2 separate regions of the Homo sapiens genome follow, and region 2 is linked to region 1. A link means that fine-mapping ties the variant in region 1 to the expression of a gene that starts in the linked region. Tissue or cell type: whole blood. Region 1 holds a variant in brackets; the other region holds the start of a gene. All regions are shown on one strand. Distances are from middle to middle.

Region 1 (5,166 bases):
CACTCTCCTCTCCTTTCCGGTTAAAATCTAATAAGGTGTTCAAAGGCCTCTGCCGGCCCCTCCGTACTTCTCCCTCCCTGAATGCTTAGAAAACAGAAGAAGGAAAGAGGAGATGATAACAGGAAAATAGAAAAGCGAGGGTCAAAAGTTAACTGCTCAAAACCGCCTTCACCTAAACCAGGCATTGGCAAACTTTTCCTGTAAACGACCAAATAGTAAATATTCTAGGTTTTGCCATCTCAACTACTCAACTCTATCTTCAAAGAGCAAAAGTGGCCAAAGACAGTCTGCAAACAAACAGGCAAGGCTGTTTCCTAATACTCTTAATCCACAGAAACAGAGGGCAGGCTGCATTTGGCCCACAGGCTGTGGTTTGTCAACACGTAGTCCAAGTACAACAATTTTTATTTCTGTCTATTCCTCCTATGTTTTTGATTATTAAACAGTTACTATAGTTGAAATAGAAAAATAGGAAAAATGGAAATATAAAATATAGCTAAATAGCTAAGTTAATTTGGACTAAGTGATTATCCCCATTTTTCAGATGAGAAAATTGATGTACTTTGAGATTAAAGGATTTGCCCAAGATCACAGAGGCACCATGTGGCAGTGCTTGAACTTGAACTCACAAAGTCTGCCTTCAAAGTCCAAGTTTTTAAGTTTTCTCCTTGTCTAGATGCAAACAAATGTCAATATTGTAACCATAAAAATTGTACAAAACAATGTATAATATTTCCTTAACACTGTAAACATTTAAGTCTTACAATTTTGATAATTTGGTCATTATAGTATTGATCATTATAATTGATAATTGCTGCATAATTTTTCATCATTGGGGTAATAAGTTTTATTAAATTATTTTATATCTCTAATGATTTTATTTTATTAAATTATTTCCTAAGCTAAATTCCCAGGAGTAGTATCACTGGGCATCTCTCAAACCTTGTTGTTATGTACTGGGGAAGAGAGTGCTGATTTGTGGCAACTGCCAATTTCTGTGGTGTAAAGACTCCACAATGGCCACAGATTTTAAGCTACCAACATGACATCACTGAACAGAGCCAAGAAGAGAGGCACATCCTGGGCTCTTGCAAGAAGATGCAAGCTGGTCCAGCACCCAACTGACTTGGCTCATGTTGCCTTTCTTCTTCCCAGCACCAAATTATAAATTGAATTAAAGTGTGAGAGTGTTTCATAAAAACTTTTAAACACTTGATAGTGTGTGAGTGCACTGGTATCTCAAATTTGCTCTAATTTACATCCCCTGGTTCTTACTGAAAGTGTCATTTTTCCATGAGTTCCTTTATGTGTGTCTCTTCTGCAATCCCCTACTCACATTTTTTCATCTGTAGGGTGATGATGCTACTATAAACTGAATGTTTGTGTCCTCCCAAAATTCATATGTTGAAACCCTAACCTCCAATACAATGGTATTAGGAGTTGTGGCCCTTGGGAGGTGATTAAGTCAGGAGGGCTGCCGTCTATTAGCCAGGAAGTGGGCCCTCACCAGACACCAAATCTGCTCGCACCTTGATCTTGGACTTCTCAACCTCCAAAACTGTGAGAAATAAATTTCTGTTGTTTACAAGCCACCCTAGTTATGGTATTTTGTTGTAGCAGCCCAAAAAGACTAAGACACATGCCTTTTCTATGACTTTGAATAACTCTACACATGATAGTTACTCATTCCTTGAACTTGTCTGACACAATTTTGTCTAAACCTTGCTTTTGTTATTTTGTTGTGCAGAAATTATAATGTAATTAAGCCTACTCACCTTTACTCTTGCAAGTCTTTTGGTAATGAACAAGAGAGAGTTCATCCCATCTTCATTTATTCTGCAAATATTCATTAAATGCCTGCTTTGAGGTACTGGAAATACAGCTGGGACCAAAATAATCTCTCTGACCTCATGGGTCTTCCATTTGGGTGGGAAACATAAATTGAAAATCAACAAGCAAATCTATACTGGAAGGTCTGGTGGTGATAAAAGCTACAATGGTACAAAGCAGGGTGAGGGGACAGAGAGGAAGGAAGGTCCTCTCTGGGGACCTTCCCTCTGGGAAGGTCACATTTGAACAGAGACCTGAAAGGTGGAGTCACCAGCCGTGCTGATTTTCCTGCCATTGGAGTTTTTTTTTTTTTAATTGAACTCATTTATCTATCTGGATTTTATTTTTGGTATATGATATGAAAGAGGCTCTGGGTACATTTTATTCAGTTTGTCTACAATTCTTTTAATGCCCTTCCTTCTATTTTCAGACATGTTGTTATGAAGTTGGGTCTAATTCTCAGTTCACTAATACATTCCAATGTGTGTATTTTTAATTGCTATTTTTTGGATAGCCCTTTCCAAAAAAGTTCACCAATTCTTGCTGATTCTTCTGCTTTAGCACTAAATTATTCTTTTCAGTCTCAAAATGAACAACCAGCTTCCTGAAAGGCAAACTATGTCTTAACCATCACTGTATGTACAACATCTCCCATAGAGTCTAGTCAAAATAGACTCATAATATGTTTTTGTTGAATGAATGTCAAAACTCATGTAGATGTTTTCCACTCTCATGCAGGCCTAAGAGCACCTCATTCTGTTAAATAGGTCACAAGTAGCAGACAGCTACTCACACCCACTCACAGGCACATCTACTGTTGTCACTGATTTTTAGGGAAAAAAAAAACAGAATGTAAGACTTTAGTCCTTTACTACAAAGCCACTATAAATGTGGCACCTTTGGTAGACAACTGAGGCAAAGAACAGAGTCCCTCAAAAAGACACAGCCACTTCCATAAGAGAAGACGTA[C/T]GGAGTTTGTGTTTGAATTATTTCATTCCATTTATTTCACTTGGGATAGGATTGAAAGTCTTGATGATGAGGCCATAGCACAGTCAGACCATCTGCTTTTCCAGTTCTGTGTTTGCACCGTCTGTGCATCCATATTCCCCCCAAAACCAAGAAGGCCAGTGAAAGTGGGGCCAGCACAATGCCCCAGGAGAACGTGGAGGAGGCTGTGGGAAGAACAGAGTCACATCAGGAGCTGAACAGTCTCTCACTGTACAAGAGGACAGGGCAATGCAGGTGTACAAGATAAGAAAGAAATTGGAGTTTGTTTTTCTTGATAAATGTGCATTGATTTTCAGAAAGCACATCCCTCACACCAACATGGAGGATATTTGAGAGTGATGTCTGTGGCATTAGAGAAACGAGCGTGATAGGGCAAAATCTGTTAGAAACATCGTAGGGTAAGTGGGCAAGTGCTGAGGGTTTAACTTTGTTCCAACAGTGGGACACTGTGCGTTTAAGATGCTGTCTGTTTATGTCACAGTTGGCCAACTGTGACAGAGCCAGGAACAATCTGCCCTTTTCTAATGAGCATGGGTGTCATGAGGATCAAAGGAAGTAGCAAAGGAAAATAAATTTTGAATAATGGAGCTGCAGGGGCCAACACGATTGCTTGGGTCCAGCTATTTTATGTTCTGCTCCTTGGCGTCTCTGTGTTATGGAAATACAGGAAGAGACTCTGAATAAAAAGTTAAAAAGCAAATGTGAGAACAGAGTGTTATCAGACACATTGTTGATGAGACTAGAATCCTGCATTTTTAAGCTATTATCTATCACAGTCTGTTTAGTCATCCAGGAATCGACATGACCTCAGCCTGTTGCTCCAGAGGATTCTCACATTTTAAAACCCCACAAAGATTAGAAATAAGTTCAGCTGTAATATTCTGGGCAGCTGTTTGAATACACCTCTCAGTCCTGGTGAAAGACTTACAGCCTGTGTTCCCTGGATCAGTCACGGCCAGCCACATGCAGGGACAAGGCTCATGTTATGGAAAATTTTAAAGGTTCCCAGCATCAGGGCCAGACAAACCACAGGTTCCTTGGGCTCACTAATCTGACCCCGAGAGGGAACATTCTGATTTTTGTGGGTAAATGTGTACAACCACCATCTCTCCCAGCCTGCTCATCTGGAAATGATCTGAAACGCCACCCTTCACATGTGTGCCCTCATTCTCAAACTTCACTGTGAAAGGAGCTTTTTGTGTCACAGGCTGCAGCCTCTCCCTAGGAATATTTGACAGGGTGGATCTGGAGTAAGTCCTGAGATCTGTGTTTGTGACCAGTGGCTCAGGTGAGTGTGAGGCTGGTGGTGCACAGCGCACAGTTGGAGGAAAGTTGGGTGCCATTCCCTGTCCTGAGGCTGGAACACATCATTGGCTTTCCAGTTTACACTGTGTTTGTGGCTGCCTCCCCAGCAAAACATGGAGACCTGGAGCAATTTGTATTTATGTTATTGCTGTAAGATTGTCCACGAGCCATCACTGAGATGCTGGGAATCACTTTGGCTTGCCTGCCATTAGCTACAGGCTGTCAACAGAGACTACATTCAAGGCAGCTCTCCCTCCTGCTCAACAATTAAACATTGATATGAAATCAATTTAATCAAAAATGATAATGTGGGTTTTCCTCTTCTTCTTTTTAAATGTCCTTAAATGAACACTGGGTTGATTTGGCTGTAGCCTTGTACCTATTTCCGGTCATATAATGACTTTGACCCTAAAGCTGCCCTGAACCCTGGGTAGCTCCCAATCCCCAGCTCTTAGAGGATGAAGTTTCTCATCTTCAGGATAAAGAACAATCCACCCTCTTCTAGAGGCCATGCGAAGACAGCTGATTAGTGACCCAAGGCAGAGCCACATGCAGACAGAGTATTTCGAAGTTTACTGTAGAACCATTTCATCCATTTTCCAAAAATCAGCTTGCTATTTAAATTTTTCATTTGAGTATAATCTCCCAAAGTCCAGCCTCCACCCTACCAAAACTCTTTAAAAATGGGAGGTTTCTTTTCAGCTCTCCACTAGCAGACAATGCAAGGGAATTTCTATGGAATCATTTGGAGAACAAGTAGATTTGTCTAGTATCCATGGAACATTCAACATGTTATATTCTCCTATAGTGCTCCCCAAAATACATACATACCTTCCTTGACTGTGGTGCGTAGTGTCTGAAAACTCAGGGTATTATGGACAACACATTTAAAATCCATGTGCAAATCCTCTCTTGTGACAGGATCAAAAATCAATGGCACTTCAATGTAGTTCTCATTATTTTCTGAATATTCCCTGAGTTAAAAAAACATTCACTTAATTATGATTGTATCGAATGCAAGCT
Region 2 (5,000 bases), 110 kb before region 1:
GTGATAGGTGTCTCCATCGTGCCGCCATGTGTGAGCTCCTGGATGTGCATGAAGAGGAGACAGCACAGAATCCAACATGCAGGCGACTGGGACCTTAAAGAGCTCCAGCCCCTTTCAGTACCTGGTGAGATAACTCGGGGCCAGGGCTTCCCACATGCTCCCTGCACTAGGCATGGCCGGGAGGCTCCAGCAGCATTTCCTGGACCCACAGCAGACAACCAGAGGAGAAAAAGGCTGCTGACAGTGCAGATCCTTGTCTTGTGCCACCAGCCCACCTCACAACCTCAAGAAGAAGAAAATGCAAACCAAGCACCCATTCACGGCAACAGATGGGTAGCATCCTGGAGCTGTGCCATGGCAGGTGAGCCACAGGTGCCCCTGACAACTTCTTTTAAAATGGCAAGAACCTAGTATATCCATTATGTAGCATAAGAATATAAGGATCTCTGTACTTCTCCACCCACTATGCTATGGTAGTTTCACCGCAATTGTCCAGCTTTGCCTCTCTTATTACTGAGATGTCTTCTCCATAATGTCCCAGCTTGCAGGTGGACACTCAGCTCGCACTGATGCATCCCAGCCACAGGGTTTCCATCTGCCCTGGTCCCTGTGCATGGCCAAGCCACAGAGTGTAGCTCCACCTCCTAGAGCTCCACATCCTAGGAACTGAGGCAAGGGACACCACAAACTTGGAGAATAGCAGCCCTGCGATTCTCTAGGGAACCACAGAGCTACATCTGTGCCCATCATCTCCTCGTCCTCTCCATTGGGGCTGCTGAGTGGTGTCCTCTAGGTAGCCAGTGCATCCACACCCTTGTACAAAGGGGCGGATTTCAAAGACCCCCCTTTTGAAGAGAGACTGCTGACATCCTATGTCTTACCAAGAAGACTCATGTCCATAAGGGGACAGAGGTTTTCACTTGTCGTATTCACCGCTGTCTCCCCACCACTCACCACAGTGCCTGGCACATAGTAGATAGTCAATAAATCTTTAATAAATTAGTGAATCTACTATTAAGCAGTGTTTCAACAATGGTGAGAGGTTGACTCAAAAGATGTCACAGGTTTCAGAACCATAAAAAAAAAACTTGATGTCACATTATGACATACAAGCAGGGCCTATTAGAAATGGGGGTGCTGCTCTGGGCCTGCCAAGGTCATGTGAGAATTCAGATCAAATATCCTTTCCTGAACAGCATGGAGGCCACATGAGAGTGGACGGGTGCAGGAGACGCTTCACACACAGCAGCTTGGCAGCTAGCCAGAGACTGAAAATAAATCAGAGTTCCACACCCCTGCCCCAGCAAACCCCATTCTCAAAGGCTCTACCTTTCTGTCTAGCATAAACGTTAACATCGGATATGAATACAGAATATTAAATGAAATATCAAATGAGATATCACACAATAAATTAGAAGGGATTGAGAAAGAAAACAATGCCAATAGCCGCTTGGTAAACTGGATGGCAAAAAGGACAGTGAACGTCCCCATGCCACCTCTGGCTTTCCTCAGCTCATCAATAGTCATGGAGTTCTGTTTCATACATTCAATGTCCAGAAGCCTGGCACCAAACCGCAGCGACTGAGACATCCATCACATTCCCGTGACGAATGGACCCTTGCTCCATGACCTCAAGAGCCCAAGTTCATGGTGTCCCTTGCCTCAGTTCCTAGAATGTAAAGCTAAATCACAGGAATGTGGCCATCTGAGAAGCTACCCTGCCCCAAAGATAAGGCAGTGGAGAGACAGCCCAGCAGGAGCCAGCATCTGCGTGCCTTCCCAGCGGCCTTCCTTCCTCCCGGCAGTGCAGAGGAGAAAGCCCTGGCAGGCAGGACGAGTGGGAGGGAAGACAGAGGGGGGCTGCATGCAGAGGTCTTACCCTCCTTCAGGACATCATCCTCCAACAAGTTGGTCACCTAAACTTCTGCTTCCCCCGCTGTAAAACAGGGGTGATGACAGCACCCTCCTCACAAGACTGTAGGGAGGGTAAAAGACCAGTTGCTGTCAAGGGCTTATAAACTGTAAAGTGCTGGGCATGACTGTTGTAAATAATGAGTGTCTTCTCAGCGCCTACTTGCTTGTAGCTACATTCCCTAGCACCATCCTTTATCTGGAGGGGCAACAAGTTACCCTCCCCAGTGTGGTTAAGGCCTCAGCCCTTACCTTGTTAAGGAGACTGACGGTCCTGAGCCTAACCTCTAAGAGGGACGCTCCTGAACCTGTAGAACGTAGCCGGATAGAAAACCTGAAAGCCATTCACACGGGAAGTCACACACCTACCTAGAACCCCCCTCCAGAACAACTGGCAAGTTCCTTCAAACGACCTGAACAACGTTAACTCTTGCTCCACACAAGAAACACACACACGCAGACCTCACCGCCATCCCCTTCTTACACAACACACTCTGACAACCAAGTGCAACTTAGGGAGGACGCTCACGGCGTCCTGCAGAGCGGGGGACTCGAAGGTGTCAAGGCTGTGGTCCGTCTCACCCCTACCTAGTCCCCGGATGCTCCAGCTTCCCCGTACCTGGACGGACGGCCGTGGAGGGTGATGGGATCCCAGCCCCGGGCGGAACCCGGCTCAGCTCAGAGGGGCGAGAGCCCTAGGAGCCGAGCGAGGAGTGCTTCGGTGCGCGGGCGCGCGATTGTCACATTCCTGCCGCTCCCTGGGGCGCGCGGGGCAGGCCGGCGCCCCCACCGCCCGGCCCGGCCGCTCTCCGGCTCCTCCCGGCCGGCGCCGCGCGCTCCGAGTCGGCTCCGGCCGCCGGCCACAAGCTGCGCCCGCCCTCGCGGCCGGGAACTGCCGGGCGCGGCTCTGGCTCTAGCCCCGCCGCTGCGGGGGCGGGGAACGGGCGGAGACGGCTCGGCTGGGCCAGTCCGCGGGCTGCGAGCGAGCTGGCCGGGTGTCCCAACTCTCCACCCGGAGGAGCAGGCGCGGCTGGACAGACCCCTGCGGACACCGCCCTGCCCCGGGTAGCCCGCAGGGGTCCCGCCGGTTCCAAAGCATTGGAGAGCTGCCGGGCGCTCTCGAGTCGCGGCCCGGCTCCTCCAGGGCTGCGGCGGCTCCACTAGAGTTAGTTGAGACAACTCACCTAGCCACTACGACCTGGCTCTACTACCCCCATGGAGCCTGGCTGCGACCCGCGAATTGAGTTGGCGACTCCAGGGCATCAGATCCCGAAGCAAACGCTCGCCAGAGCGACCTCTGGAGCTTGGTGCCTGGCCAGGGGCTCTCTCCGACTGGCTTTGTGCACTAATTTCTTTGTACCTCCGTTTCCTCTTCTGTGAAAAAGGGATCATAAGAGCACTCATCTCATGGAGTGGTTGAAAACAGTTTTTTAAAAAAAATGAGCTAATACATATAAAATAGTGCCAGGCCCAGAGCTGATACTACTCACGCGTTATCTGCTGGTTTCATTGTTGCTGTTACGCGCCCGGATGAAAAAAGCAATTTAAGTGTCATACTATAAAATCTTGATACCACACTTGGGGGCAGACAGGGTTTTTAAATTTTTAAACTTAAAACCCACTTATGCCCACCAGCTCACTTTGCCAATGAGAATTCACACCCAGGGGAATGGAAGGATGGCCAAGGTCATGCAGCGAACGAACGCCTGGCAGGATCACACCTTGGGCTCCTTGCAGGGAGAGGAGGGGAGGGCGCAGTGGTCGAGTCTGCAGCTCCCTCGGGCTTTCCCCCTCCACTTCGCTAGTCTTCAGCAAGTGACTGGCCCCTCCAGCTTGTTTGGAGGTCTTCATGGGCCATCCTCCAAGAAGAGTTTTAATAAATGATGATAGCTTCCTTCCTTCTAGTACACACCGCCCCTTCCTGCATCCCTTTCAGACTGGGCAGGCTCTTGTTCTCGTAACCCACCCCTGGATATGCCTCTTCAGAAACTCAAGAATTGAGGTAACCTGAGCCTCAGCTGCCCCCGGACAAATCCAGGCTGGAGGAAAAGATGAAGGAATGAGCAGCAGAAGCTCATCTGCCCTAAAAGCTGTCTTGCAACCTGGCATGATGACAATTTCTCATTCTTAAACAATCTGTTTCCAGAAGCTTTTATGGTTCCTTTTCCTCGAGAAAGCAGGCTTACATCAGAGGCCAGTGACGTAGCATTAAGAGAATTCCTTAACAATCCCAGCTCTCAATATTCCTTTATACAGCAGAAGGTCTCACAGCCTTGACTCCACTCAGAATCACCGGAGGACATGACACTCCTGTGTTCAGATCAGTCACGTCAGAGTCTCTGGGGCTGAGGCCCAAAAGGCAGTGTTTTTAAAGCTCCCAGGTAATTCCAGTGCAGCTGGGGTTGCAAGCAGTTGTTCCTCTAAGCTCCCACAGTGATGCCATTACTGTGAATCCTCCAACTGAAGGCTGCTTCAACCACGTGTCCAAATGGCAGTTCTGAAAGCTACAGCAGGTGGGCCTGGCTCCATGCTGTGGAACCAGCCCAGAAGCACTATGATGGTGAACATAAATTCGTCCTTCCATTTTCATAATGAAGGTTTTTAAGCAGTTTACAAGTAGAAAGTGAAATTGATTTGTGCAACCATGTAGAAATAAAATCCGTAATTTTTGTCTTTTTTAAGTGTTGTCCCCGTTCAGCCACTCCTACCCAGTGTCCTGCTAGACATGCAGGCCTCTAGACCCAGGTGGGACTCTCAAACACCCGCCCAACACAGAAATGGAATTGGAAGACCTCCTCTTTCTCACCTTATTACCACTGTTCTATCTGGGACCTTCAAGTCACCTTCTCCCTCACTCAGCCATCCTGACCACTTTCACTGACTTTCTCCTTCCCTTTATTTCCTTTCCTTGGATAACTGGTGTGCCTGCCTGTCTCACTCCATCCCCTGGGTAGGAGGCTTCCGTAAGGTGGAGACTGTCATCCCTGTATCCCTATCTGCTCTGGTCTCAGCACCACAAAAATGCTCTGAGCACATCAACATGCTTTAGTGTAAAGCCTACTGCTTACACTGACATTGTATGCTAGTGA

Evidence for each region. PIP is the estimated chance that this variant, and not a neighbour inherited with it, causes the effect.
Region 2: it holds the start of IL1R1, and the variant in region 1 is fine-mapped to the expression of IL1R1 in whole blood (TOPMed, PIP above 0.99).

What each region holds. Positions count from the first base shown.
Region 1 is chr2:102,026,062-102,031,227 of GRCh38, reverse strand. It overlaps IL1R2 (interleukin 1 receptor type 2), which reads right to left. Exons shown (of 9, transcript NM_004633.4): 8 at 4,975-5,117; 9 at 2,684-3,002. The coding sequence ends at 2,836. Among named protein-coding and RNA genes, the nearest start is that of IL1R2, 37 kb to the right of the region's middle. The variant C/T (reference allele first, on the strand shown) is at 2,800.
Region 2 is chr2:102,140,551-102,145,550 of GRCh38, reverse strand. IL1R1 (interleukin 1 receptor type 1) reads right to left here and starts at 2,805. Exons shown (of 12, transcript NM_000877.4): 1 at 2,531-2,805. RefSeq lists enhancers at 1,588-1,882, 1,648-1,942.